Regions from separate parts of the Homo sapiens genome. Here region 2 is linked to region 1. Evidence: fine-mapped expression QTL. A gene starts in region 1. The other region holds a variant in brackets. All regions are shown on one strand. Distances are from middle to middle.

What was found. PIP is the estimated chance that this variant, and not a neighbour inherited with it, causes the effect.
Region 2: its variant is fine-mapped to the expression of PPP1R1C in thyroid (GTEx, PIP 0.91).

Annotation. Positions count from the first base shown.
Region 1 is chr2:181,983,505-181,987,917 of GRCh38, reverse strand. It overlaps PPP1R1C (protein phosphatase 1 regulatory inhibitor subunit 1C), which reads right to left and starts at 2,065. Exons shown (of 5, transcript NM_001080545.3): 1 at 1,727-2,065; 2 at 19-79. The coding sequence starts at 1,807.
Region 2 is chr2:182,043,759-182,048,171 of GRCh38, reverse strand. The region is part of intron 2 of PPP1R1C (protein phosphatase 1 regulatory inhibitor subunit 1C); the gene reads right to left. Among named protein-coding and RNA genes, the nearest start is that of PPP1R1C, 60 kb to the right of the region's middle. The variant C/A (reference allele first, on the strand shown) is at 2,573.

The DNA of each region.
Region 1 (4,413 bases):
CACATCATGCTTCTTTACCTGGGGGGTTATGCTCATTGAGAATCACAAGTGATGCTGGTGTAGGTCTTCTTTTCCTGATCTGTGAACGACAAAAGCCCAGCTAATATCAGTGAGTATTAGACACTGCTCCAGGTTACTCTGCAGCTTGCAAAGCTGTCTCACCCTCATCTTTTCCCCACATGCAAAAGCAAATTTCTGGAGGACACATGGAAGGTGCTCACTAATTTTATTTTGAAATAATAGAAAGCCACAGAATTGAACTGTCTGATAGAAGTATCACCCTCTTTGACCAAAAAGCTACATTTCCACGGAAAAGAAATAATTATATACAACTGAATGATACAACAGAAAATTAATTTACAATGAAGGTACAGGGTTGACCTGATAATGTTAGTGGCTTGCTTGGAGCCTCATAACATTGGTGGTGCTTTCAAGATTCATTACCCTTATTTTTAAACAGGATAAGGAAGAGCTTGGAAACCTATTTCTAGCAGGTACCAGAGTTAAATCAACAGCATAAGCTTTGAATTTCAATTAATTTTGTTAACTTTTTTATTTTCTAGTATAATATTTAGAACAAATAAACAAATGAAGAATAAATATGGATCTTATGAGAATATGCAACTTATTACAAACTCTAAAGTTTTTTTTTTTCATTTTAAGAGTTACAGGAGCATAGTATTGTCAGAATCCCTTGAATATAATATCCTTTATTTGTTTATTATATTCATTTATGGGTAAATACCCAAAGTAAGTGTCAGTAGGATAGATAATAAAATTTATCAATGACATCCTGTCCAAGATAGAAGCAACATCCCATTCAGCATGGATAGACACATGTTCAAGGATACATTTATCTGGCCTGAGTCTAGGTGCATCTACCTCAGATTTCAAAACATCCTGAAACACTATGAGTCACGGATTAAATAATTATTTTTAAGACTTTATATCAAATACTTGGAAAAGGATTCAAGAATAATTTAAGTTTTAAGAAATGAATGGATTAGGTTGATGTCCTCATAAATTTCTTTGCTTTTGCCTCCTCACAGTTGCAGTTCTAAGAGATGCCATTGCATCAAGAATCTAAGTAAATCTGAATATGAAAGGTGATACAGATGTAAACCAATATTAGACATGGACAAAGAATCTAGGAAATGTTAAAACACTGTTTGTAATGTCTGAACAAAACGATTTTAAAACTGTACAAAAAGCTACAAATCCTAGCTGTAATATATTATATAAACTTATAATCATTGTTTTGTGTCCACAATAATAAAACATATGAAAATAAAGTATTAGGCCTATAGTCTCAAACTATTGCAGGATTTAATGATTTTATTGCTAAATCAATCATTTTATTTTATAAAAAATGAAATAAAATGTTGCTCATTTTGATAATTTTTAAAAGTTGCTCTAAATGTTGAAACTGTTATTTTAATGAGCAAAAATGAACAGATTTATGAATCCATATCTGAATTGCTTACAGAGCCATTTTCCCCTCAGAGGTGCTAATTTTGTATCAAATGAAGTGTTACATTTTAGACAATAGTTCTCCCAATGCAATTTAAATACAAGTATGTGTAAAAACCAACTTATTTCTTGTTTACATTATCTTGAAAGTCAGAGTTAGCAAAATCAAAAGGTAAAGAACCTTTCAATTAATAACCAGAATGCATGTTCATATTACCTTATGTACAGGAATGGTTCTCCATGCAATTTCACATACCTGCTCTGCTGCTTCAGGTGCAATCTGACTCTGGAATACAGGCACGGCAAACTGTATCTTTTTGGGACTGTTGGGCTCCATGGTAATGATGATAATTAGTCAGAGATGTGAAGAGCTCAGAAAGACTAACCCTAAGTGGTGTCCGGGATGTGTTTCCTCAGACACACTCCACTAAGCCACACAGAGTGCTTCGTAATAAATAGCTGTAATTCCAGATCGAGCAAGTGAAGATGCCGAGGTTTGAGTAACCCCCTTCTTCAACATCCACGGTGATGCCTGGCTTGCCTGTTCCCCCACCAATCCCTTGGATCCTCTCAGCACAATACAGAAAGGAACAATACGCTAATTGTGTGCCTCTTCACTAATACACATGCCAAGCATTCACTCAGCAGCTAATTGAAAATGCAATGCTAGCCTTGAAGGACCCACTGCCCTGGGATTTGAAAGAAAGGCTCTATCCACTGTACATTACTAACCGGCTGCTCAAAAGTGCAATGTAAGCTCCCTCTGAGTATTGCAGGGATGGGCCATTCATTATTGATGAACATCAAGCAGGAAGTTTTTAGAGTTGGGGGCAGGGTTTAGGTATGGAATCATTTCTCTCAGCAACTTATAAGTCAGATACCTTTGCTATTTCACATTCAGCCACGAAACAGTTGAATGGCCATGGAGGGTAAGCCACAACCAATAATATCAGCTATGTTTATGCTATAAGATCTGGTTAGTTTAAACTCATCCTAGGAGGCAGAGCATCTGTGGTGTAGTGAGGGCAGCATTACTGCAGGGCTGAGCAGATCTTAGTTCGAGTTCCATCTTCATAATTAACAAGCTCTGTGGCCTCCAGAAAATTACTGGCTACGTCTAGGCCTCCACACTTCCATCAGAAAAATGAGGGGATTGGACTCAATGACCTTTAAAGTCCCATCCTGTTCCAACATTCTAAAATTGCAGTTCACAGTTTTCATTAGAGTGGAAAGTATTGTGCTGCTAAATTTAGCAAACAGCTTGGAAGTCACTGCTGCTTCAATGACCTCTATTTTATTTCCTGGTGGAGCCAGTTACATTCTCTGACTTGGAAGAATATGACTGGAAAACATTAGTAGAAACCTAATGGTAGTCAACATTATGGCTTGTTGTCAACAGTAGAAATGTATGTAAAGATAAGGACTTGAAAAAAGCATGAAGTGGGTAATGTTCAGAGGGTTGATATTGGCTAGTGGTCAGGGAACAGTGGGACACTAGCCTGATTGCCACATTAGTTAATGTTAAAGGGGAGGTAGTAACATAGCCAGATGGCCTTCATGCATTCGAATACTTTTATGAAGGAAGTGTGAAAATGAAACTGCTTGAGATCTCTGCTTTCTTGAGAGGCATTATGTGATGAATACTAGATTTGTAAATATGTTTTTGGATGTACTTAATATATTTAGACATCGACTATGATTCCAGGTATTTACAATTGAAGTTTTTATTTTTTAAATTTTGATTCTGTACTAGGAATCCATCTTAATGATTTAAATAGGCAACATTCTGTTGAAGGAATATAGAAAGGAATATGCATTATTGAAGTAGTTTTCTATATTCACTAGGGGAAAAAGCAAAGATGTGGATGTGAAAGCACTTTTAGTGGAGAACAGTGCTGACTAGCAAGAAATCTTGTGATGAGTTTATCCGTGTAGTGTCGAAGGGAAATTTATAAATTACATTTTATGTAACAGTTTACAAAAGTCTCCAGAAATAAAATCTAAATTGATATCATTAATGAAGTTATTTCTTTGAATATATCTTCAAATTATATAAAAGGAAAGCAAGACAAGACAGTATTTTTAGTGAGGAGTTAATACAAAACTTCACATAATGTAATAATTAAGAACATGCACTTGGCAACCTTGAGTTCAAGCTCTAGCTCTGCTACTTACCAAGTTTATCAGTTTGGGCAGTAGGAGAACTTTCTTCTTGTGAGGTTTAGATTACTCAATTCCTGAAAAGAGCTCATTACAAGGCCAGCACGGAATCACTCAATAAAAGATAGCTATTATTTTTCTTTCAGCCAGATTTTTCAAAAGGCTTCAACATACACATTTTCAACCAGAATCACTAAGAATATCTATCTACTTGGAATAATTTGATTCCACTTAGAATAATAGGTGATAAAGTGAAATTTCATATATGTGTTTGGTATAAATACCAATAAAATGGTTCTCATTAACTAATTGCCCTATTTTGAATAGGTTGATCAGAGACAATATTGTAAATGGGCTATCTAGACCCTTTAAGCTTCTTGTTTTTTATGAGGCCAACTCCTGTGTGTCCATTAAGATTCAGTTAAGTATCATTGCTTCTAGGAAGCCTTTGTAGATTTACTGTTCTCCACATTGGGTTTAAACTCACCTCTCTGTATTCTTAAAGAATGAAGCATAACTCTATTTATCATAATAACTACCTACATGTCTTTTGAATGTTTAGTATTTTGCAACTTTATTTATTCACATAGCAAATATTTGTTGAGTAGATACTATAGTCTACTCCACACCAGGCCTTTTGCTATGGCACTAGAGGAGAGATTGTGTTAAAAGGTATTTGAAGTCCTTTTAAAGCTAAATTCTTACTTGAAGAACTACTTAAAATGCAACTTAAATGTAAAATAATCTAAAAAATGTTAATATAGAGTTTGCATGGGGGGTATA
Region 2 (4,413 bases), 60 kb before region 1:
AAGAAAATGGTAAGAATAGTTTTACCCTGTTGTGCCAAGATTCACACAGCTGTATTTTTCTTTCAATATTATTTATAGCTTTCCATTTTAAATGATGAAAGTGGGAACACAACCTCATTACTTAATAGATTTTTATCTCTCTGAACCCCCTAAAATGGCTCATTTTAGGGGATGCCAATAAGAACCTGGTATAAGATATTCTCTGTGGAAATAGTGGTAGAAATGACAAAGAAAACACAAGATGGATTATGTTGATTTATTCAAAAAGAACTCTCAACTAGTAATTATCTCATGATTCAGGTTGGAAATCTTCCAAACTACCTTTCTGCTTATATTTCATAATTTCTGCTGCCACTTCCAAGCACAGTAAAAGAAGAGCAGAAAAAGCAGATTATTTGAAACCTCAAGAGTCTGCTTTTCATTAGTATTCTCAATTTTTATGAACTTAGTTTCTCTTATAAGACATATTTTATCCTACCACACAACCATTTTATATGAGAGCCAAAGAACTATTGCATCATCTTATCAGTAGTGATTTTTCAATCACTGGTACAATTTTTTCTGCCTTCTTGGAGTTTGAATTTGCCAATTTGCTCCAGAAAAATAAGTTGGTTCACTTAATGGATGGGTTTTCTTTGGGGATGACATCAGTTTAAACAGCAATATTTATTCCAGTAATTCTAGTTTTTTAAAAAAGTGTATCTTCTTTTGAGTAGAGAACTGATTGTAAACATACTTTTAACATAACTTTTACAGATTAGAAATAATTATTAGATGTTTTAGGCAATGTTGGAAAACTAATGATGTAATTATTCAATGTGCATTTAATCCTTTTCCAATAATATATTTTTATGTCATTTTGATCTATAGATTCCTTTAAATAGGATTTGAATAATTTAGGTGTTAGTCATTTTAAAACACTAATATTTCATTTTTCTACATAAGATATCACAAAAGTATTCTCATCAGAGTCTCCAAATAAAGTCTTATGACCAATTTCCTTACAAGTAGAAGTAGGGGAAATAATTGAGGTGAGCATGAGAAAATTATTCAAACGTTAACAATTTGAATGATGATGACAGGAAATTTTGAGAGCATTCACTTTAAAGATGGTTCTGAGAGGCACTGGAATTAGAATAGAATTAGCTGCTTACCACTATTTGAAATATTTAGTTCTCTTTTTACTTCACAGAAACGTTTTCTTTTTTTTTCCACATAGGTCGCTAACATTGACAGTGACTTACTAAATCTGCTTTGTAACTTGCATTAGTCAGCCAGAGCACATGTAACAGATTTTCATTTCTAGAGAAGATATTGGAATATAAAGGTAAACTTGTAAAATATTTCTTTATATATTGTACATTTAATTACTTGCCATGATTGTCCAACTTAAAATTATTATCAACGTATTTCTTTCTTTTTTTTTTTTTTCTTGAGACAGAGACTCGCTCTGTTGCCAGGCTGGAATGCAGTGGCGCAATCTCGGCTCACTGCAACCTCCACCTCCTGGGTTCAAGTGATTCTCCTGCCTCAGCCTCCCGAGTAGCTGGGATCACAGGCGCATGCCACCACGTCAGGCTACTTTTAGTATTTTTTTTTTTTTTTTTGAGTAGAGACGAGGTTTCACCATGTTGGCCAGGAAGGTCTCGATCTCTTGACCTTGTGATCTGCCTGCCTCGGCCTCCCAAAGTGCTGGGATTACAGGCATGAGCCACTTCGCCTTTGAATTGCTAGTTAATAATTTCTATGACTAATTTGGGGATTATCATTCATGTATAAAAACTGAAGCAAAGCTATGTTTAATATTGGGTTTCACAGAGAGTGGAACAGTGGTTACTAGGGATGGGGTAAGGGCAGGGGGAATGGGATGATATAGGTCAAAGTACAAAGTTGCATTATGTAGGTTAAGTAAATCTAGAGAACTAATGTACAACAGGAGGTCTATAGTTAATAATGTATTCACACTGGTACTTTGCTAAGAGAGTAGATTTTAGGTACTCTTACCATGAAATAAAGGAGGAAAGGAAGGAAGAAGGAAGGAAGGAAGGAAGGAAGGAAGGAAGGAAGGAAGGAAGGAAATGTAGGAGGGGAGAGAAAGAAAAAAGTAACTATATGAGATACTTGGTTTGTTAATTTGCTTGATTGTAGTAAACACTTCACTATGCATATGTATATTAAGGTAAGTATATCAAAACATCATGTTGTATATTTTAAATATATATACAGTAAAAGGTAAAATAAAATTAGGTTTCATTGTATTCTTATAAAGACAAATATGATTGGATATTTGATAATTTTGAAGCTTTTCTACTTTGATCAAATTGCCAAATCACAGAATTGCTCATTTAAGTCATATTCTTATTTTATAGCTATGCTATTTTATATCTTGCATGGATGAATCATTTATTTTTTCCAAACCCTTTTGCATTTTGAACTGTGTAGATATAACCATTGCAAATTTCAAAATAATTGTATCTGAGTATCACTATTATGAGTAAACCAACCATTATAAAAATAACATAAAATAAAGCAACATTCTCTTTAACTAGAACTCTGTATAACAAGAGGAAAA[C/A]TTTTATTTTTTAGTTATAGATGGAAAATTTATTCTTAAAATCACAAGATGTTACTGTACACATTAAATACATATGGATGATTATAAACAAAGTGGTAATCTTTTCATGGCTTAATCAACTGAAGGCATCCTATCATCAATGGAAGTTTTTTTTTTTTTGTTACTAACAGAAAGAGAGGTCAATGGAAAAATATCCTTAAAATCCTATTTCACTTTCTATAAGTTTTTATCGACTTGAAAAATATAGAAGTTAGTTTTTGTCACTTGATCATCTGAAATAAACATTCACTTTTCATCCTAAATAACATGCCTCAAAAAAAGCAATGCTTTATTTATTGAGTTTTAAAGATTGAAGGATTAAATACCTGTGTAATTGGATTCTGTTTTCAGCTCTTGCTATTTTTACCTATCCCGAAAATCTTAACCTTCATGCAGTTTCTCAGTTTTCTTGTCTCAAATGTAATTTACTTGAGGGTTGCACAGTGTGTTCTAAACTGTAGTGATTATTTCTAGTAGCTATATGGAAGAACTGTGAAAGGACAGACATGTAACAAGATACCAGCTCAATATGTTTGGCACCAAGTTCAGATAGGAAAACAGAATATACATATATCTATAGATAGAGAGACAGAAAGATGAAGGAAAAGGAACTTTATCTTTGTATAAGCCTTAAACTAACCATTTTTTTCTCATAATGGTGATAAAAGAGAAAAATAGAATAAAAACACATTTAAATGCAGTTTGTAGATTAACGCCTATGATAATCTGTGTCTTATATGTAAGGTTGTCTGTCACTATGGATCAAAATGTGCCCAATATTTTAACAATAATTTATTGCATATATACTCTGTGCTATGCATCCTTTTAGGAACTAAGTTCCCACCCTCCTGGGGAGTTTAAACTCTATTGAAAAAGACAGATGATTAAAAAGCAACCACAGTACAGTATGATAAATAAGTGCTGCAACAGACGAAGCACCGAGTGTGCGAGAAGCATATATCAGGGGCATCTATCTTATCATTTTTTTCCTTAAAGGAAATAAATCTTTATAAGCTTGCTGCTGAGATGGCCAGCAAAGGTGAGTGGGCAAGGAAGTTGGGTGGGGTAAGACTGGAGATGAGAAAAGATTTTCATCAGATGAAACAGCTTGTGGGAATCTCCCTGAGGTGTGAGAGAGCATGACGTTTTTTAGAAATTAGAAAAAGCTCAAATATTTGGACTATAGAATGCCAGGGGTGAGTTCAGAGAGAAGGGGTTGAAGATTTAGTAAGACTAGATGATTCAGGGATTTGAAACTGTATGAAGTTTGTAGTTTATTCCAAAAGTGATGGAAAACCAATGAAGGGTTTTAAGCAGAAAGAGGCATGACCAGATTTCTTTCGTAGAAAGATCATTCTGACAGTTATGTGGAGAATGAATTGGAGGAGTCCATCCTGGATACAGGTAGCTCAGTTAGGAAGACATTGCAGTTATTCAGGTGATGGATGATGAAGGTGGAACCAGGTGAGAGAGATGCTTAAGAGAAAGAATGGACTCGACTTGCACAATGACTCGACATAGGTGAGGGTGGGGGAACAGGTGACAGGAAAAGTGAGTCAAACATTACATGCAGTTTCTGGCTTAGATTTTGAGTTCATGGAATTGTTCATATTGTGGTGCTTACTGATTATCCAAGTGGGTAGAATTCAGATATAGTCACTCTCAGTAGTGAAAGCGGAGCTGAAGACACAGATTTAGGAGTCTTCAGCACCTAGGGGGTCAATAAAGCCATGAGAGAGGATGAGAATGCCCAGGAAGACGGTGGAGGACTAGAGAAGCAGAGGGCCAAGGTAGCAACTCTG